Linked DNA regions of Homo sapiens: all the other regions are linked to region 3. Evidence: fine-mapped expression QTL. A gene starts in region 3. Each other region holds a variant in brackets. All regions are shown on one strand. Distances are between the middles of the regions.

Region 1 (5,145 bases), 230 kb after region 3:
GCATGAATGAACAAATAAGATGAATGAGGCTTTATCACGTGGCCATGATCGTCAAGCATCAGCTGAGGATGCAGTGCCCACTTACCGCGACTGAAACGTGAACACACTTAAAGGGCAGCTGTGAGTGGCACCAATGCGAAGGTACCGCTGACCCGCGATGGGGAAAAGGCAACCGTTGACCGTTAGAGACTGTCTGTGAGGCACTTAGCTTGAAAGCTGAGAAGGCAGCCAAGCTCCAGGCAAACCAGTCATCCTAATGGGTTTCAAAGACCATAAATGGTCTCTCTGTATGGCCGGAGCTCCCTTGGCCTTTCCTGCAAGATGAATTTTCACACACTGGACATATCACTATGTCTATTTCATTTTCCATCAGACATTTGTTAGTGTGGCTCACAGTTTATTGGTCCCACTTCTCGGGAAGTGTGCTGGTCGTTTCTGCCTTAGAACAGACGCAGGCTCCTCGAGGCTGGAGCTGGGCCAGGCATTTGCTGGGTCCCCAGGCCATCTGGCTCCATGCTCCGCTTCTTGTGCCTCTCCTTCCATCCTTGTCCTGGCCCCCGAGCCACCCCTGCCACCCTGCAGAATCTCACAGTCCTGTTCTCTCTTGTCCTCCCTGCAGGCTGGTGGTTCGTGAGCACTTCTGAGGAGCAGGGCTGGGTCCCTGCCACCTACCTGGAGGCCCAGAATGGTACTCGGGATGACTCCGACATCAACACCTCTAAGACTGGAGAAGGTGAGGGCTTGCAGGTCCAAGGGGCAGGGAGCAACGCGGCCTCTGGAGGCAGCTCTCTCACTCTTTCCCTAGAACCAACAGAACCCCTAAAGTGAGCTGAGCCATATCCTAGCCTCCTCCCTTGGGATCCCATCTCAGTAAGGTTGGCCCAAAAGCTCACCTCCCACCCCAGTCCGACCCCTGCTGCTCTGTCTCAGGGGCTCAGGAACTGAGGGATGGCTCAGACCCCTACACAGTCAGCCTCTCTGATTAGCTTTGGCTTCATGAGGTTTGTTTTTCCACCCACCCCCCTTTTTCTTATTTTTTTTTATTTTTGTATTTTTTTCTAGAGACAGGCTTTCACCATGTTGGCCAGGCTGGTCTCAAACTCCTGGGCTCAAGCGATCCACATGCCTTGGCCTCCCAAAGTGCTGGAATTACAGGTGTGGGCCACCGCACCCAGCCCTTCCTTTTTTTTTTTTTCTTTTTCTTTTTTTTTTTTTAATTCCAAACACTTAAAAACTACTCAGTGAGGTTTTTCAGGGTCTTTCTCCTTGCATTTCAAAGAGTCTGCCCCTGCCCTCTAAGCCAGCACTGGCCTGGGCCTATCTGTGGCTTCTGTACTCCCTAGAGCAGGCTGCCTGAGCCCAGTCCGTTTGCGCCACCCCCAGTTCTTGGCTGCCTGCTCCTAATGGCTTCCAAGCCTCCCATGGCCTGGCTGCGGGAATTCTTTCCCTAACGGTTGGTGGGGATGGTCCAGATGGATGTCTGAAAGCCAGAGGGATTGAGGCCACCACCCGGTGCTCGGGCCACCTCCAGGCCTGCTTTCTGCTGCCAGGCCAAAGTAAGCAGCCGCCAAGTGCCAGCTCCTTATTCATTCTTCCCCTAAATGTCGGTTACTCGGCGGGCAGCTGGGGCTTCGCCCTTCCTCCTATGTCGAGGCTTTACTTCAGCCCCTTGACCAGAGCCTCGGCCCCTGCCATGTGCTTCCACTGTGTGACAGGTTTCCAGGGACAAGGCCCCATTGGGAAGGGCCCGCATGTTCAGGCTGGGCTGCTCCCTGAGCCCTGGGGCTGAGCCTGCACCTGTCTTCCCTCTGGTTCCATTGCACCTCTGCAGCAGGGGAGAGTCTTGGCCCCTGAGCTAGGTCTGGTCTCATATGCCTGCAGTCCCCAGCCTCACCTCCTACCTAGTTCCACATTCTTTTTGTTGTTGTTGTTGAAACAGAGTCTTGCTCTGTCTCCTAGGCTGAAGTGCAGTGGCACAATGTCAGCTCACTGCAACCTCTGCCACCTGGGCTCAAGCAATTCTCATGTCTCAGCCTCCTGAGTAGCTGGGATTACAGGCACCTACCACTACGCCTGGCTAATTTTTGTTTTTAGTAGAGACGGGGTCTCGCCATGTTGGTCAGGCTGGTCTTGAACTCCTGGCCCCAAGCAATCTGCCACCTCAGCCTCCCAAAGTGCTGGGATTACAGGCATGAGCCACAGTGCCCAGCCCCTAGTTCCACATTCTATAGGGCATGCCAGGGCCTCTCAAAAACAGCAGGAGCTCACAAAGTACCAGATGCTAGACCAGGTCCTGAAATGCCCTTGCCCCCACCCTGGGAGGACCCTGTGGCTATGGCCATCCCCATCCTTCCAGCTGTGGCAACTGAGGCTTCAAGATGTTTATCAGGTTTGGACCCTAGTCCACCTCCTTTGTCCCTTGGTCCTTTCTGCTGTGCCACACACCTCTCTGTGAAGCATTTTGCTCGTAAGCAGTACAGGCAGCTCTAGGGCAGTGCGTGTATGAATCAGAGCCCCAGTTGAAAAGGCTGCACCAGGAAGGTCAGAGCGGAGCTGTTGGGTCGATTATGGAGGACCTAGGCACTGAGTGGGGAGAAGGCCAGGGCAGGAAAGCGCACGAGAGGTGTGGAGCACAGATGCCAGCCTGGTTGGAACAGAAGGCAGGTGCTTTGCGCACAGAACAAGTAGTAGTGGGTTGGGCAGGATTTTGACCTTGATGGAGGAAGAATCAGGCAGCCAGTGCAGATTCTGCGTTCAGAGGCGGTGTGGGTGTATGTGTGTGGGGGGTGGGTGTGGGTGTGTGTGCGCGTGCATGCGTGCCCAGGGCGATTCTCCTAAAATAGGTTCCTGCGCACGCCTCTGACAGGGCCTGTGTGCCAATTCTCCTGGCAACTTCTGGATAGCTGTGGATTCCACCGTCACATCTTGGGCATTTCCCACCCAGATCTACAGAAGGGCTCAGGGATGGGTCCCCTGGGCCTAAGGCCCCAGCTGCTGTGGTGTGTCCGCTAGTCTCTCTGCACCTGCAGCCACATGGCCAAGAGATTGGCCGACACTAGTTCCCTCTCCAGCCATCTCTACCCCAGC[G/A]CTATGGCCATCCCATCATAGGTGCCCTGAGCCCTGTAGACAGAAATTGGAAGCCTGCATCCTATCAAAGCTTTCCTAATAGCTCATCTTCATTACTTTAGGAAGAAAAGATGATTGGCTGTTCTGGTGTGTCCTTATCATGAGACACTTTGATGTATGTTCATGCTGCTCTTGAACCCAGGTGTGCTGTGGGAGTTCAGTATGGTAGGAAGGGTGGGAGTTGAGACTTCCTTGTCCACTGACAGAGGTGCGGGTCCAAGCCTGACATTCGCAGGGTGCTTCAGTGAACCAGGAGAGGTGTGTTACCTCTGTCAAGCCCTCGGGTTCATTTGTGATAGAGCCAAGACCAGAACCCAAGTCTCTGCCTTTGCTCCTGTGTCCCACATCTACCAGTATGGACCTGCTTCCTCCAGAGTGGGCGCATATTGGGACATGCGGAACAGACCACGGTCTTCTGTGCTGCTGTACCAAAGGCGTGTACCCCATTAGTGAGCAGATCCCCCAGCACCCAGACCCTGTTCCCTCCCCACATCCCCTTCTTCCCAGGGCTTGGCAGCCCAAGGGGCAGCAGAGTTAGGGGAACAGCAATAGCTCGGGGTGCAGAGTCTGTGCTAAGAGTCTAGGCTTTGGAGCCAGACTGCCTGGATTCACATGCTGCCTGACACAGAGTGTTCTTTAAAGCCCTGTGCCTCTGTCTCCCCATTTGTAAGATGCCAACCACATAGGGCTTTTGTGAGGCCCAAGTGAGATGATCTTTGTACATGGTTTAAACTGGGCCTCGCACACAGAGTAAATGCCGACATCAACACCTTACTGTGAAAGCTGCCTCTGGTCTGGCCATGAGCTGAACCCCTTCATCTCTGCAGAGAAGCCCTACACACCTCCCCCACCTCTCCCTGCCCCACCAGGAGGCCTTGCACAGGACCTGATTCATGTTTCCCAGAGCCCATTCAGCCCCTTGTCTAGGCTCATGCCAGGGCAGGTGGTGTCACTGTAAGACAGATGAGGAAAGAGAGGCTTAGAGATGGGTGGCTGGCCTCCTAGAGTGACACAGGTTGCTGGCAGTGGGGCCTGGACTGGAGTCCACACCTCCTACCCTTTTGTCCTTATAAGAAGCAGGTCAGACAGGTCCCTCTTCTTCCAGGAAAGCAAATGCTTTCCCAGGGCCTCGGTGGTCTGGGACGGTTTTATTTTCACTCCAGCCACTGGCCCCTCTCCCACCCCCAGACCCGGGCAGCCTGGCACCTTCTTTCTGTGGTGGCAGGAAGTGAGGCCAGCTGGCACCCTGGAGCCCTGGTCCAGTATCCATTCCATCTGGGAGTCTCACAGGAAGACAGAGGCATCTGGAGCTGGGGTCTGAGCAGAGGGTGCAGGGGGCTCAGAGCCAAGCAGCAGCCACCAGAGGAGCAGTGCAGGATGCTGCTCAGGGCACGGGGTCAGGAGCAGTGAGAAGCTGGGGAGGGGGCCCCTGTCATCAGATGTCCCGATGGGTGGCCTGAGAGGAGGAGCAGAGCCAGGGCCTCTGGCACCCACCCTTGTGTCATTCCGTTCAGCAGGTGCTTCCTGGGACCCAGCTGTGTGCCCGGCCCTGTGCTAGGCCCTGGGAATGCAGAGACACAGGGAAGGGTTCCCAGAATGGCGAGAGCTCTCAGCCCCGCAAGGAAGGGATCCAAGTCTCTCTTGGGCACACTGATTCTTCCAAGCATGGTGCCTGTCCAAGGTAGCACGTTCACAGTCAGTACTCAGTGAGCGAGTGGACATAAGCTCAGATGTTGCAGGACCCCACACCCTCCTGGGAATCAGCACCGCCCAGCAGTGAGGGACACTGATCTCACCATCCCTGGAGGCTGTAGCTGAGGGGCTGTCTTGCACTGGGCTGGAGCTAGGGACCCTCTTTTCTCTAAGGTGCTGGGATTCTAAAGGCTTTAGCCCACTCCTAGGCTCAGGGGCACACGCTGTGGAGTTTGGTTGAATTTTTCCCTGTGTGCCGACCATGACCTGTCATATCTGCCCCATCCAACAGGGGCGTGCCCTTTGGTTCAGTCCAGGTGATGGTGA
Region 2 (5,145 bases), 320 kb after region 3:
TGGTCTCAAACTCCTGACCTCAGGTGATCCACCCGCCTCAGCCTCCCAAAGCGCTGGGATTAAAGGCCTGAGCCACAGCGCCCGGTCAACATTGTTATTTTAACAAAAATAACTGAGGGAGAGTGCCAGAGTTCATCAGATGGGTGACAGAAACTTGAGATGGCTACACAGAGAACAGAAGAAAATGCTGGGACTCTACCATTCCATCCCCCCACCAGGATCAGCTGGAAACCAGGAGGTAAGCAAGAGGGTGCAAGCAACCCCCATCAACACCTTGGCCACCTACAGACCTCACCACTGGAGTCCCTGCAATTCTCACAGGCACCAAGCTCAGCTAAGGAAGCTGCCTGGAGTCCACACAGCAGTGCTCCTCCAAAGAAGAAGCCAATGCTGTGCCATGCCCCCTGTGCCCACATGGCTACTCTGCTATGCCATCTTGGAATTGGAACAACAGCTGGAGCGCATCTTGCTCCCGGGGTGAGTTGCCATGGGTCCCCTTCATCCCTGGAGCTAAGCCACCCTCCACCCCAGCCCAGTGGCCCAACATCCCCAAGCCAAGCTGCCAGCAGCTGTTGCACCCTTCCCTGCAGGGCCCAGCAGAGGTAGAGCCACTCCATCTACCCCTCCTTCTGCCCCCTTGGGCCAGAGCCTAACTGATTTCCTAGGTACCCTGCCTCCTAAACACAGTACCTTGGCTGCTCAGGACAGTCACACCTCTCTGGTGCCTAAGTTGAAGGAGTGCCTTACATCCCAGAAAACAGTACCTTGGCTACCTGGAGCAGTCACTCACCCCAGTGCCTAAGCTAAAGTGGTGCTCTGCATCTCAGGGAAATAGTTCCTGGGCTGCCGAGGACAGTCATGTCCCCTATCACCCCCAAGCATGAGCTGAAGCAGCACACCAGCTCCTGGGGAATCAGTGCCCTGGCCAAGCTGAGCAACTGTGCATCCCAGAACTGAGCTGACCTAGTACCCCATGTCCCAGGGAAATAGAGCTGTGAATGAACTGAGACATCCTGCCCTACAGGCCAAACAACCCTAGTACTCTGTTGCCCCAGAGCTGGGCTAGCCCTCTAGAGTCTGAGCCGCTGACATACCCCTCTCCCTGGGGAGTAAAGTCATCACTGTGCTGTTTCTTGCCCCCTCAGTGCCCAAACAACAGCTGTGCCCCACCTTTCTGGGATACTTGCTGCTGCTGCACCTGGCATCACACAGTCAGGATTATTGCCAAGCCCCACAATCCCTTGTTCTAGAGTCACACTACACAATGCCTCATCCCCTGGGATCTGAGTTGCTGCTGAACCCTATTGGCTCAAGTTCCTGAATTGCAGCCATGCCTTGTCTCCCAGGCCCAAATCTTTAGAGCACTTCTTCCCAGGAGTCAGGCCAGTACTGTGCCCTCTCCCTCCCAGCAGTAGAATCACAGGTACAACCCAGCCTATGGGGCTGAGCTGATAGCGGGTGCTTCAGAGTCACAGATGCTGGCTCTGTGGGCAACATATATCCAACCCTGCCACTGACAGCAAAGTTGCACCCCATGACCCAGGTGGCATAATACGCTTGCAAGACCCTCAGCCTAGGACCCCAGCCCCACAGCCACTCTAAGCACCTGCACCTGGAACTCAGGGCTGCTGCAGCTGCTTGTAGGCCATGTCAGACTTGATACCAAGAGAGATACCCTTGGCTAAGTCTTCCCCTTGTGGGTTAAATGAGAATAGGAGGACCTCAAGAGCCCTCAACACTGAGGACATTAACAACCTATGATGCCAGTGTACAAACATCTACAGCCTAGGCCACGGGGGTGCTCACAGTTATTGCTGATGTCCAGTGCAGCTGAAGAAGCTGCATAGAGACTATACCATTGCACCTATCCAGAAACAGAGTCATCACACTCTTTCCAACTGGCACACTACAACCCAACTGCAGATGAAAACCTTTCTCTACAAAAGCCATTCTAAAATGGAAGAGGTGATTGATCCACTAGATGTACAGACATCAATGTGAGGATGTGGGGACAAAAGAAACTCAAAAGTCAAGAAAATATGACACCACCAAAGGAACATAATAACTCACTAGTAAGAGACCCAAATGGGAAGGAAATCCACAAATTTCAAGAAAAGGAATTCAAAAAGAGATCTTAAGGAAATCAACAAGATACAAAAAAAAAAAAATACAGATAGACAATCTGATAAAAATCAAGAAAACAATTCACGATGTGAAAGACAAATTCAACAAAGAGATAGAAACAATTTTAAAAGAAACAAACAGAAGTCCTGCAGCCAAAAAGTTCAATGAATGAAATAAAAAATGCAATAGAGAGCTTCAACAGCGCTTGATCAAGCAGAAGAAAGATTCTCTGAACTTGAAAGGTAGGTCATTTGAGCTAGGCGCGGTGGTTCACGCCTGTAATCCCAGCACTTAGGGAGGCCAAGGCGGGTGGATCACCAGAGGTCAGAAGTTCAAGACCAGCCTGACCAACATGGAGAAACCCCATCTCTACTAAAAATACAAAATTAGGCCGGGAGCGGTGGCTCAAGCCTGTAATCCCAGCACTTTGGGAGGCCAAGGCGGGCGGATCAGAAGGTCAGCAGATCGAGACCATCCTGGCTAACACGGTGAAACCCCGTCTCTACTAAAAATACAAAAAATTAGCCGGGTGTGATGGCGGGCGCCTGTAGTCCCAGCTACTCAGGAGGCTGAGGCAGGAGAATGGTGTGAACCCAGGAGGCAGAGCTTGCAGTGAGCCAAGATCGCGCCACTGCACTCCAGCCTGGGCGACAGAGTGAGACTCCATCTCAAAAAAAAAAATACAAAATTAGTCCGGCATCGTGGCTTATGCCTGTAATCCCAGCTACTCAGGAGGCTGAGGCAGGAGAATCACTTGAACCTAGGAG[G/A]CAGAGGTTGCAGTGAGCTGAGATCACGCCATTCCACTCCAGCCTGGGCAACAAGAGTGAAACTCCATCTCAAAAAAAAAAAGAAAAGAAAAAAGAAAGGTCATTTGAAATTACCCAGTCAGAGAAAAAAATAAATAAGAACAAAAAAGTCAAGAAAAATTACAAGACTTATGAGACATAATAAAGCAATCAAATATTTGTATTACAGTAGTTTTAAAAGGAGAAGAGAAGGGCCAGGCACAGTGGCTCAAGCTTGTAATCCCAGCACCTTGAGAGGCCAAGGCGGGTGGATCATGAGGTCAGGAGATGGACACCATCCTGGCTAACATGATGAAACCCCGTCTCTACTAAAAATACAAAAAAAATAGCCAGGCATGGTGGTGGGTGCCTGTGGTCCCAGCTACTCGGGAGGCTGAGGCAGGAGAATGGCGTGAAGCCAGGAGGCAGAGCTTGCAGTGAGCCAAGATCACGCCACTGCACTCCAGCCTAGGTGACAGAGCAAGACTCCATCTCAAAAAAAAAAAAAAAAAAAAAAAAGGAGAAGAGAAGGAAAAAGGTGTAGAAAACCTATTTAATGAAATAATAGCTGAAAACTTCTTAAGTCTGGGGAAAGATGTGGACATCCAGATCAAGGAAGCTCAAAGATTCCCAAATAGATTTAACCCAAAAAGGCCCTCCCTGAGGCCATTATAGTCAAATTGTAAAAAGTCAAAGATACAGAAAGTTCACAGAGAAAGCCTCCAAAAAAAGGAAAAAAAAAAGAGAATTCTAAAAACAGCAAGAGAAAAGCATTGAGTCACATATAAAGGAATATCTATTAGACTAAGAGCAGATTTCTCCACAGAATCCTTACAGGCCAGTAGAGAATGGGATGATACAGTCAAAGTGCTAAAAGAAAATAATCATCAGCCAATAATACCATATCCAGCAAAGCTATCCTTCAGAAATTAGGGAGAAATAGTCTTTCCCACACAAGCAAAAACTGAAAGAATTCATCACCACTGGACTAGCCTTACAAGAAATGCTCAATGGAATCCTACATCTGGAAGCAAAAAAGACAATCATCACTATCATGAAAACACATAAAAGTGTAAAACTCACTGGTAGAGCAAATACACAAAGGAGAAAAAGAATCAAACCTTATCACTACCAAAAAAACAAAAACCCAAACCACAATCATAAACAATAAGAAAGAAAGGATACACAAAACAATCAGAAAACAATTAATGAATTGACAGGGGCAAGTCCTCACCTATCAACAATAACCTTGAATGTAAACAGATTAAATTCCTCCATTTAAAAGACATACACTGCCTGAACGGATAAGAAAATAAATGACCTAACTATATGCTACCTACAGGAAACTCACTTCACCTGTAAAGACACATATAGACTGAAAATGAAGGGATGGATAAAGATATTCCATGCAAACAGAAACCAAAATTGGCAGGAAAAGCTATGCTTAACATCAGATAAAGCAGGCTTTAAGTCAAAATGGTAAATAGAGACAAGGTCATTATATAATGATAAAGGGATCAATTCAGCAAGAGGACATAACAATCATAAATTATATGTGCCAAACAATGGAGCATCCAGATATATAAAGCATAAATTATTAGATCTAAAGGGAGAGACAGAGGCCAGGCACAGTGGCTCATGCCTGTAATCCCAGCACTTTGGGAGACTGAGGCAGAAGGGTTATTTGAGGCCAGAAGTTCAAGACCAGCCTGGGCAACATAGTGAGACTTCATCTCTACTAAAAAAAAAAAAGAAAAAGCCAGGAATGGTAGTATGCACTTAGGAGGCTGAGGCAGGAGGATCACTTGAGCCCAAGGAGTTTGAGGATGCAGTGAGCTATGACCATGCTACTGCACTTCACTCTGGGCAATAAAGTGAGACCCTGTCTCAAAAAAAGTGGGGGCCAGACATGGTGCTCACATCTGTAATCCCAGCACTTTGGAAGGCCACAGCAGGAGGGTAGCTTGAGGCCAGGAGTTCAAGACCAGCCTGGGCAACATAGCAAGACTCCACCTCTAATAAATAAAAAAAATAAAAATGTTTCAAAAAGTAGAGACAGAACCCAATATAATAATGGTTAGGGACTTCAACACCTTACTCTTGGCATTGGATAGATCATCTAGATAGGAAATCAACAAAGAAACATTAAATTTAAACTGCACTATGTAAAGACATTTACAAAACATTTCATCAAACAGCTCTAGAACACATTTTTTTTTTGAGACAGGGTCTTGCT
Region 3 (5,145 bases):
TCTACAATTACCTGTTTTCGAAAATCAGATTTTCAGGTATCAGTTTGCATCTTTATGTTGGCTTCTCTTTCCCTTACTTATCCTAAACTTAAAAAAAAATTTGCAATTATATTTTGTCATTTTTAACTCACACAATGTCCTTAGGTTGGAGTCATCTCCAGTTCATGGGCGGAGGTGGCAAAATAGGGGTTTCTCTAATCCTTTCTAGCACTAGCTCTTTGAGCAGATGTTTTCAACACAGGCCATCCTATATACCTACTGTGTGCCACGCATAGTTGGGGTATTTAATGAATGATGCACAGTCCTTGTTTCCAAGGAAACTTCCCCCAGTCTCTGTCATTTTTGGGGGATTGCCAGGCACATGTGAGGCATTCAATAAATGTGTATTGAACAGAAAGGAATTCCCAAGGCACTGTGGGAAATAAATCTGCATGAGGTTGAAATGTACCCAGAGAAGAGATAGCCTGCACCATTTCATACTTAAATCCCCTTGGACATACGGCCCCAGTACAGAAAAGACATTTTTCTCCCACAGGTAGAAATAACTTCTGCCCAGATCTTGGCACCATGGGGTTGAGTGGGGAGCACTCAGTTGCTCCCTCCAATAAAGGTAATTACGGAACAAAGGGGGAAGTTGGGAGTATGCTCAAGTCAGGCTTAAAGGCCTGAATTTATAAAATGTCAAGTTGCAGGGAGTCTTTTAGGCAGGAGAAAGGCTACCACTTTGTAGGCCGCTAGGAAGTGGGGAAGAACTGGGCCCTCTCTCCTACAAATTTATTGTGCTTGGTGTGTTCATTGTGGATCTGGGTCCGAAAGAAGGGTAATAAGGAAACCACTAGTGCTGTTTTAGATGAGCTGACTGCTTTGATTCACAAGGGGACCCAAATCAAACTAAACCCCCTCCTCTTCTTCCCCCCACAACAGCTAAACACCAGCTCCCCTCGCTGGTGGCTTCTCAGGTTTTATTAGCACTTCCAGAAGACTTTGCCATCCACAGAAGACGAGTTATCCGAGAGCCATGATGAATCTCTTCCTCACAAACTCACAGGCTGTCTTGATCCATCATCAGAGAGGACCTGGAGCTGGCCAGCACCCTCCCAAGTTCGGGAGCTCAATATGGAGGGCCCGTTCCAGGTCTACCTCTCATCCCTTCAGGGAATAATCCTTGCTCATGGAGGTAGTGCCCTGTCCTCCCATTTTCCCATCAGCTGAGCAACATTACCAGGTGCACCTTCCCCCAGGACTCCTGCTCCAACATTCACAAAGGTTTTCTGTCATCTTCTCTGACCAAGAAGCTCTGGCCTGGTGCCAAGATCTCTCACAGTCTGAGCCCCCTAGGCCCATCCATCTTTTTTTTTCTTTGTCCCGTGCCATCGTTTGGTGTCCTAGCGCCCTTCCCCAGGAAGGTTGGAGGAATAGTGGGTTACTCTGTATGGAGCAAATATGTGAATAAATAAAGCCTTAGATCTGTGCCTGGGTTCTGACAGTCTAGAGAACGCGCAGAAGAAAGTATTAATGCAATTAGGTCACAAAATTATTTGTCCTCTTTTCAGATGTTTCACATTGGTCCACAGTCACAAAGCTTTATTGTGATTGTGTAACAACTGGAGTAGTTGTGAAAACACTACCCTTTAAATGTTTGAAAGCAGAATGGGAAAAAAATGTTGAACTAGAAGGGGGGAAGCTACATTGAATTAAGTAGTAACTGTGCTCCAAGTCCAGGGACCACGGACAAGTGGCTTGGAAAGTGGGTTTTCCAGACTAGAGGGAGGGGTGAGAATGCCAGAGCCTGGGGCTCACGGTGAGCTGGCCTCCAACCGGGTGGGTTTTCCCACCATTGTATGCTCCTTTCCCTGTCGCCAGCTTGGGGAGGGTCCCCAGGGGAGCCCTGGGCTTAAGGCAGTGGTGTTATGCAGAGTCTGTAACGTTGTCATTGGTAAATGATGCACAGGGTAGTTACACAAGCCCAGATCGATGGACGACTCAGGCAACGAATCGATCACTTTTCCGGGGAGAATTCACCCTTTATGACCTGCAGAGGGTCAGGTGGTTCGTCCAAAGAGGCTCTGGCTTGAAGGATTTAAAGCTGGCCTTTTCCCCATTCCCATCTCCTCCTCGGGGGCCTGGGCAGTAACAGCCGGGTAATAAACTACTTCTCATTAAAGAGATCTGGGGGTGGAAGTTGTAGGGGGACATAAAAGTGGGGACAAAAAGGCACAAATCCGCTCCGAGGCGGAAAGCCAGGATGGGGGCGCGCGGGGCTCACTTTCCCCGCTCCCTCTCCCCCCGAAGCCACCCTGAGTTTTTGTGCCTAGCGAACTAGCCCGGTGCTGCGCCAGGCCGCTGGCTGCGCGCTGGGCTCGGGTGGGGGCTCGTCGGCCCGCCCCTGCCACTGGGGCCGGGCTGCAGCCCCCTCCCCGTCGCCCCGAGCCCCTCCCCCGGCCCGGAGCCCCTCCCCGCGCGCTTCCCCTCTCTCCCCTCCCTCCCTTCCCTTCCCTGCCTGCCAGGCCCTGCCTCCGCCTCCTGCGCCCACAGCCTCCGCCAGCGCCGATCCCCCCGGAGCCCGAGCCGGAGAGCGGCGAAGGGGAGCCGCCGGCCCCTCCCCAGGACGCTGACAGCAGGCTCCGGGGCCCCCGCCCCGTCCCCTCGCCGACGGGACACACCCCCGCCCCTCCTCTGCTCCGCCAGTTCCCGCCGGACCCACCGGGCGGCGGAGAGAGCGAGCGGGCGAGCGCAGCGCGGCGGCCGCGCGGGAGTGAAGGGGCGCGCGGCAGGCCGGCGGGGAGTCCCCCGGGGCGCACGGAGCCCGCGCGCCCTCCGGGACCCTCCCCCGTCCCTGGGCCGGACCTGTGGGCGCCGGGAGTCCGGGCAGCGTTCGGCGCGCCGGGCCGGGGTGGCGGGCGGCCCCGGGACCCCGGCAGCTGGAGAAGGAGCCGGAGCCCGGCCGGGATGAGAAGGTGACGCCGCCGGGGGCGCCACTCGCTTTGTGGGGGAAGATGCTCGCCTACTGCGTGCAGGATGCCACCGTGGTGGACGTGGAGAAGCGGAGGAACCCCTCCAAGCACTACGTGAGTACAGCCCCCGCCGACCCTGCTGGGGGTGGCCCGAGGTCCCGGGAGGGCCCCGGATGGCCCCTTGCCCCTCCCAGCTGTGAGGTCGCGAAGCTAAGCGCCCACTGGGCAGCCAGCAGCCGTGGAGTTTCTTCGCAGGGCTGTGATCTCCAGGGAAGCCTCTTCTGTCCTTCCTCCTTCGCACCCCCGCCCCCCCGGTTTCTTTTTTTGGCATTGGAATTGGCAAGTGGCTGCCCTTGTCTGTTACAACGGTGAAGTCATCTGTCCGCCTTTGATGGATGGTGGGGGGAGCTTTCGTCAACCCCTCACAGAGCAGCCCCGTCGGGAAAGCGCATCTCCTCGGCCCTCCCCAGGGGCCCTGGGCGCTCACGCTCACACAGCCCGAGATGCTTTCAGAGCTCGCCCTGGAGAAGGAAGCCTCGCGCCCTGCCTCCCACGCCAGCTCTGTCTCTGCCTTCCTAGGCCTGGGGCTGGGGGCAGAAGGAAGCCGCCGCCCCCTTGCCCAACCTCCACCCTCCGCGCTAAGCTTTGATTTCCCTCATAAAGCCATTGTGTCCGTCGGTGTGAGGAGAATTGTGGCTTTTCCTTTTATCCCTCCTCTGGACGTGACCCTTAACCGGGTTCATTTCCTCTTAAGTGATGCTCCATCTCCAGACACGAGGAGGCGAATGTTTGCTGTGGTCTCCGAGGAACCGCCCCTCCCCCTTCCTCCCCCAAACTTTAATGAGAAGGGGTTAAGGTTGACTGGGGCAGCTCCAGAGCCTATGTGACAGTTCCCCTTTCATCTCAGCCGGTCCTGTCTTCCCATCCCTCACACCTTAGGAAGTAAACACGGTGTCCTTGACCCCTCTGAGCGTCTGTGCTCCTGTACTTGAGATAGAAGAGACCCAAGCACAGAGGACTGCATGTTATTTGCAAATTGGGTATTTAGAGGAGCAGTTCCAGTGCTCAAAGCATTAATCTTAACAGTTAAAACAGGCGCTGGTTGCTGCCCTGGATTGTACATTGATCTCTGAAGTGCCTTTTCTTCCACTGTTGCAAAGGGACTGGGGTTTGTGGCAATGTCAGCCTCGGGCTACTCTTTTTGCCTTTGTCACCAGTGTAGCTCTGAACTTTGAGTTTCTTTACAGCTGAGCAAATGCGGCTGGGCTCATATGGGGAGGAGGTAAATGTGGAGGCAGGTTGACTAGGCAGGGAGGTGGGTGCCTGTCGGGTCCAGTCCCTGACACCCTTAGAGAGTTGTTTCTTTTGTGTCATCTGGTCCAGCAAGCATTTTCTGCTGCTGTTACAAGAAAGCTCTTTTTGGAGGGCTTGGGTCACCAGGTGGTCAACCTGCTCTGTGGACAGATGTCCCTTTGTATATCCCAGGGTTTATTTTTCTCAAATGTTGCAGGCTAAGTTTTAAGGGTTCTCATTTGTAGTCCTCAGCTGAGCTTGGCACTGCATTCAACAGATGGCACTCTGCTCTGAGACCCAGGCAGGTGCGTTTCCAACTCTGGATTTTAAATGAAACATCACATTTCAGCTCCCACCGATGGTGCCCAAGGTTGCAGATGCAGGACACACTGGTAACAAACTAGAACCGGGGCCCACTGCAGACAGGATTGAAAGGCAAGATTGCGTGCTGGGGTTCTGAAGTTAGACGGTCTTGCTCAAAGCCTGGCATGCAGCCAGTAACTAGCTGTGCCACCTTGGCAAGTTATTTAAACCTCCCCCAGCCTCAGTTTACTCAATTTCAAGTAAGGATAATAATAGTATGTACTTGTTGGGAGAATTAAATGAGATCATCTATGTAAAGCACTTAGCCCAGTTCCTGGCACGCAGTAAGCTCTTATTAAATGGTAGCTTATTATTGGTGAGATTCTGACTAAGAAAGTATTTTTGAAAAGCAGCTATTAATGGTCTGGCAAAAAGGAAGAAAGATTTTGGGTTTTAAGATTGATAATAACTTGTTCTATGTGAAAAACACAAAAGAAGTCCTGTCCAGTTCCCTCGAAATGATCATTTCCTTCCTTTTTACAGACAAAGTGTTTCCCGGGACATCTCCGCTTCCCGAGTAAGAATCGATGACATT
Region 4 (5,145 bases), 190 kb after region 3:
ACTGGGATTGGTAGAGAGAAGGGAAAGCATTCCAGCAGGGGGCAGCAGCTAGAGCACAGACTTGGAAAGTAAGAAGCTGCATGGAGCAGTGGTGTTGGGTGTTGGCGCCTAGTGGGTGCTCGATACATGTGTTGAATCATGAATGATGTATTGAATGGTGGTGTGGGGGACGGGGATCAAGGAACTTGGGGAGCTCAGATTGGCAAGAAAGACTGGGCTTGAATTTGTCCTTTATAGGCAAGAGGGAGCCGTGGAAGGCGTTGGAGCATGGGACTGACTTGGCAAAAGCCCAGTTGAGAAGTTTAAGTTGGCAGCCAGGGTTCCATCCAGGTGGTAGTTGAAGGAATGCAGATGTGAGGCAAGGGTGGGGCAGGGGTCCAGGGGACCCCTGGGACCCCAGCAGGTCCAGCCAGGGGCTCTGTAATAAAGCACAAGGGTCCATCTCTGGATCAGACTCATGCAAAGGCCCCTTCCAACCCAGGAGAGGCTCTGCTGTCTAGAAGAGGTACACCCCTTCTCCATGCTCCTGCCAAGCACTCCTCATCTAAAGACACCAGGCTCCCTCCACTGCCCCCTCCCCACTCAGGCAGACTCCTCCAGCCCCTAGTTCTGCAGGCCTTGGCTGAGAGGGGATCCAGAGTGGCCTCTGTGGGATGACATCACCGCCCACTGCCTGCCTGGCCTGCAAGTGGTTTCTCATCTGGATACCTGCTCGCAGCTCCCGCCCGCCCGGCTGCCCTGGCCAGGGAACACCCTAAGAGGCAGCTGCCAGAGGGAAGAGCTGGGAGCCTGCCTGTGCAACGGGAGGGAAGGGCAGCCAGAAGGACAGAGTGTCCGTGTGTCCATCCCACAGCCTTTGGAGCAGCTCCTGAGAGAGGCCATAGCCTGTCTGTGCTTTCCAATGCCTAGAGAATATTTCCTTAACTTTTCTACCTGTGTCCCAGAGAGTCAGCCTTCAGGAAGGTCAGGCCAATTTTCCAGGAAAGTGGTGGGGGGAAGGGGTGTGGGGGTGTGGATTTAACTCTGCTTTGAAACCCTGCCTCAGATTTTCTTGGCTTGGATTAAAATGAGCTGATGTCTGTCCACTCCCCAGCACCTCCTGCTCGTCCTCCAGGCATCTTCTGGCCACAAAGCTGGGGCTTCTTTCTCCTCCTTACCTCAGTTTCCCCATCTCCCCTTTCTCCCTTCGAGTTTGGCTCATTTTCCCATATTCCCATATCAGAGTCAAGGTATTCATATTGACACCACAAACCAATGAGTCCCTCTGTTCATCTTTCTGCCAGTTCACGCGTTTCACTGGTTCATTTCACACTTATTGAGTGCCTGCCACCTAACAGGCACTGTGGTCTGGTCAGTAGAGGTGGCAAGAGTCAACTAGAAACCCATACTCTAGGCCAGGCGTGGTGGCTTATGCCTATAATCCCAGCACTTTGGGAGGCCAAGGCGGGCAGATCACTTAAGGTCAGGAGTTCAAGGCCAGCCTAGCCAACATGGTGAAACTCCATCTCTACTAAAAAATACAAAAAAAAATTTAGCCAGGTATGGTGGTGGGCACCTGTAATCCCAGCTACTCGGGAGGCTGAGGCTGGAGAATTGCTTGAACCTGGGGGGCGGAGGTTGCAGTGAGCCGAGATTTTGCCACTGCACTCCAACCTGGGCGACAGAGCAAGACTCCGTCTCAAAAAAAAAAAAAAGAGAGAGAAAGAAACCCATACTCTAGTCTTTATTAAGCAGCCGCTGTGTCCCAGGTACCTGGGATGTAATGGGCCCTTCCCTAGGGACCAGGCGCCGGTGGCCCATTATAGGCCACATACAGTGCAGAAGTTAAGATCATAGGCAGTGGTGTCAGGTGGGCTTGGGTTCAATCCCAGCTGTGTGACCTTAGAGAATTCACTTACCCTCATGAGGCTTGCTTTGCCCATGCGTGAAACGGGGCCATCACAGGACCTACTGCATGGGGTTGCTCTGAGGATTGGACGAGGCAGCTCGATGCTGTTGGATGCCTCCAAGTCAGCACTGATGAAGGCTTGCTGTCACTATTGCTATGATCTGGCCATACTCAGGCCTTGCGGGCTCTCTAACCTGCCACAGAACTCTCTATTCTTGTTTGTTGCTGGAGCCTTTCTTTCCCACTCTTCTCATCCAGTGCCCCCACACTGGGAAAGGAGGCCCCATTTCTCGTAGGGCAGGGATGGCCCTTTTTGTGCCGGGTGCGCTTAAGAAGTGCTGTTGGCCACAGAGGCTCCAGGCATGGAACAGGCACTGCTGTTCCCCTAGGGGCACAGTGGGAGGTAGTCCGTCAGCGCAGCACCCGGCGCTGCCTCTGCCCAGCTGGCAGGGGCAGGCACAGAAGCTGGCATGCCTAAGTACAGAGGCGGGGCAGGCCCTACTGCCCGGCTGTTGGTTGCATTTCTGCCTGAAATACAATCCCGGCTTTAGCAGGGCTGCTCGGGACTGTGCACGTGCGAATGTATGTGGCACACTCAGCTGTGCAGGGTCCCTTCTGCTTCTCCAAAGGGCTGAGATGGGCCTGCAGGGCCCACACCTCATGGGAGAAAACT[G/T]CCGGGGGGCAGTGGGTTTCTTTCCCTGGAAGGAGGCCTCCCTTTGGGATTTCCTAGAGTTCTGTGGCCATTGCCGTCTGCCCTAGGTTGGAGGGAGCCTCCCCCTACAGAAGGACCCAAAGATCTAAGTAGTGCTTCTTGCACCTGGGTGCACACAAGCACCATAGGGACACAGGGGGGATGTCCAAAAACTACTCATGCCTGAGTCCCAGACCAAAGAAACCTGTCTCTCTGGAGCCCAGCATCAGTACTTTTAAAAAGCTCCCTGGGTGATTCTGTGCTTCCAAGTTGAGGATTACTGTGCTAGAAGAACCAGACTGATGGAAACAAATCAGAGGCAGTTATTCTGCAATGGAAAGACAGATGGGCTTGGGCCTGAACAAAATCATACTGAATGAATGTGATGCTCTTCATAGCAGCTGTGGGAGCTAGAGTCGTCTCTTGCCTGCTGTAGAGGGGCCTCTGGTTAGTCTTTTGTGAAATGGAAGATAAGGGGGATGTTGTGGGCATGAAATGGGGCGGTTAATGTGCCTGGCACATCACATTTGCCAAGTCAAACTCAGGCGTGTGGGGAATGTGGCTATAGGCTGAGGCACCAAGGGGGCTGTGTGGAACTTGGAGACCCTCAGCAATTTTTGTAGCCAGGCTAGTGACATGAAGCCCCCTAGCCTTCAAGGAGATTGGCAGACATATAGTTTATGCCAGTCGCAGTGGCCTATGCCTATAATCCCAGCACTTTGAGAGACTGAGGCGGGAGGATCACTTGAGCCCAGGAGTTCAAGACCAGCCTGGGCAACAAAGTGAGACCTCAGCTCTACAAAACATAAAAAAATTAGCCGGGTATGGTGGTGTGTGCCTTTGGTCCCAGCTACATGGGAGGCTGAGGTGGGAGGATTGCTTGAATCCAGGAGGTCAAGGCTGCAGTAAGCCATGATTGCACCACTGCATTCCAGCCTGGGCAACAAAGACCCTGTCTCAAAAAAAACAAAAGTATACTAGGAATTCCCTTTGGGCTGGGGGTGGTCTGAGAAGGCTTCCTGTAGGAGGTGACTAGTCCATTTCTGGCTAGTGGATCCTTTTCACTCCTAGCTAAAAGCACATCATAGGCCGGGCGCGGTGGCTCACGCCTGTAATCCCAGCACTTTGGGAGGCCGAGGCGGGTGGATCATGAGGTCAGGAGATCGAGACCATCCTGGCTAACAAGGTGAAACCCCGTCTCTACTAAAAATACAAAAAATTAGCCGGGCGCGGTGGCGGGCGCCTGTAGTCCCAGCTACTCGGGAGGCTGAGGCAGGAGAATGGCGTGAACCCGGGAAGCGGAGCTTGCAGTGAGCTGAGATTGCGCCACTGCAGTCCGCAGTCCGGCCTGGGCGACAGAGCGAGACTCCGTCTCAAAAAAAAAAAAAAAAAAAAAAAAGCACATCATATTTTAAGTGTCTTATCCCCCCCCGCCCCCCCCCCCGCCAATAATGGTGATGGGAAGAGTTGAAGTGCAGAGGTTTAAGCAGCATCCAGTGCCACTCAGCTAGGAAGCTAAAAGGGCACCCAGCCTGTCTGCCTTCCTGCCTGGTGCCTGCTTAGCAAATGTCGTGCTGGTCCAGTGGCTGAGGAGGACAGAGAAGCTGCTTGCTCCTGGGAGTCCACCTGCCCTCCCTCTGCTGCACCCAGCTTTTGACCCCTCAAGCCCCTCAAACTGCCGGGGCCTGACCACAAGCCCCGGCACTGAAAGGCAGAGAGAAACTGAGTCAGTCTCTGCAGCCAGAGGGCCCTCTCTGGAAGCAGGGCTGGGGGCAGGCCTGAGGCTGGTCCGACTGTACCCGGCCTGGGCTCGGTGGCAGCGCCTGGGTGAGCCCGAGGGGCAGGAACGGAGCGAACTTGAGGAAAAGTTGGCGGGGGGCGGGCTGGGCTCGCCAGCCGCTGGCGCGGGGACTTTCTTCTTGGGTTTCAAGTAAACAGTCTAGGCCTCCTCCCCCTCCCCTGCCTCCACCCCCGGCTCCTCATTCGACGGGTCTCATGTGTTTCTATTTAAGGGTTGCGAGTAAACCCCAGTGATTGGCGGCCTCAAACCCTCTTGACTCCTCGCCTGGGCCTGGGCCGTGGAGAAGCTCTCTCCCGCTCTCTCCTCTCCCTCTCCCGCCCGAGGGAGCAGGGCTGCCTTTTCTCTCGGGTTTGCAGGGGTTGGGGGCAGAGGCTGGAGCCTCCTGCTTGCCTTTCCTTTGCCTCTGGCCTCAGCCCTCATGGGCCGCCCACCCGCTGGCTCGCCGCCCTCCCCGATGCCCCTGCCGGCCCGAGAGGGAGGCCGGAGAGACCCCGTCGGCCCCAGGCCTCCCCGCAGGCTCCCTCATGCCGGGCTGTGACTAACTCATCGCAGCACAAGGCTTCTTTCTGAGCTTCCTTGGCCTCCGCCTCCGCTCTGCCTCTCTCTTTCCTCCTCCTCCTGCCCGTCCCCTCCCCGGCCCCCTGGCTCCCCATGTCCCCCGGACCCCGCGGTGCAGCGGGCCGGTCTGGGGCCTTGCTATATGGCCTGTCCTTGGCGCCCTGTGAGCTGCGAGCCCCGGCTGCGGGCTGCCCCTGGGAGCGGCGC

Direction of the effects. Positions count from the first base shown, and alleles are read on the strand shown. Sizes are in standard deviations (SD) of each study's normalised expression. Not every link is listed here.
For the expression in monocytes after LPS of the gene that starts at base 2,687 in region 3, allele A in region 2 goes with a higher level than allele G (moderate effect, 0.67 SD a copy in Quach 2016).

Evidence for each region. PIP is the estimated chance that this variant, and not a neighbour inherited with it, causes the effect.
Region 1: its variant is the best candidate, but not a certain one, in a credible set for the expression of SH3PXD2A in whole blood (INTERVAL, PIP 0.64).
Region 2: its variant is the best candidate, but not a certain one, in a credible set for the expression of SH3PXD2A in monocytes after LPS (Quach 2016, PIP 0.68).
Region 4: its variant is the best candidate, but not a certain one, in a credible set for the expression of SH3PXD2A in whole blood (TOPMed, PIP 0.51).

The regions. Positions count from the first base shown.
Region 1 is chr10:103,622,677-103,627,821 of GRCh38, reverse strand. It overlaps SH3PXD2A (SH3 and PX domains 2A), which reads left to right. Exons shown (of 15, transcript NM_001394015.1): 9 at 620-733. Among named protein-coding and RNA genes, the nearest start is that of NEURL1-AS1, 110 kb to the right of the region's middle. The variant G/A (reference allele first, on the strand shown) is at 3,088.
Region 2 is chr10:103,531,204-103,536,348 of GRCh38, reverse strand. All of the region lies in intron 1 of NEURL1 (neuralized E3 ubiquitin protein ligase 1), which reads right to left. Among named protein-coding and RNA genes, the nearest start is that of NEURL1-AS1, 16 kb to the right of the region's middle. The variant G/A (reference allele first, on the strand shown) is at 2,892.
Region 3 is chr10:103,853,118-103,858,262 of GRCh38, reverse strand. It overlaps SH3PXD2A (SH3 and PX domains 2A), which reads left to right and starts at 2,687. Exons shown (of 15, transcript NM_001394015.1): 1 at 2,687-3,068. The coding sequence starts at 2,997.
Region 4 is chr10:103,661,220-103,666,364 of GRCh38, reverse strand. All of the region lies in intron 7 of SH3PXD2A (SH3 and PX domains 2A), which reads left to right. LOC124902495 (a long non-coding RNA gene) reads right to left here. Exons shown (of 2, transcript XR_007062276.1): 2 at 214-418. Among named protein-coding and RNA genes, the nearest start is that of SH3PXD2A-AS1, 83 kb to the left of the region's middle. The variant G/T (reference allele first, on the strand shown) is at 2,562.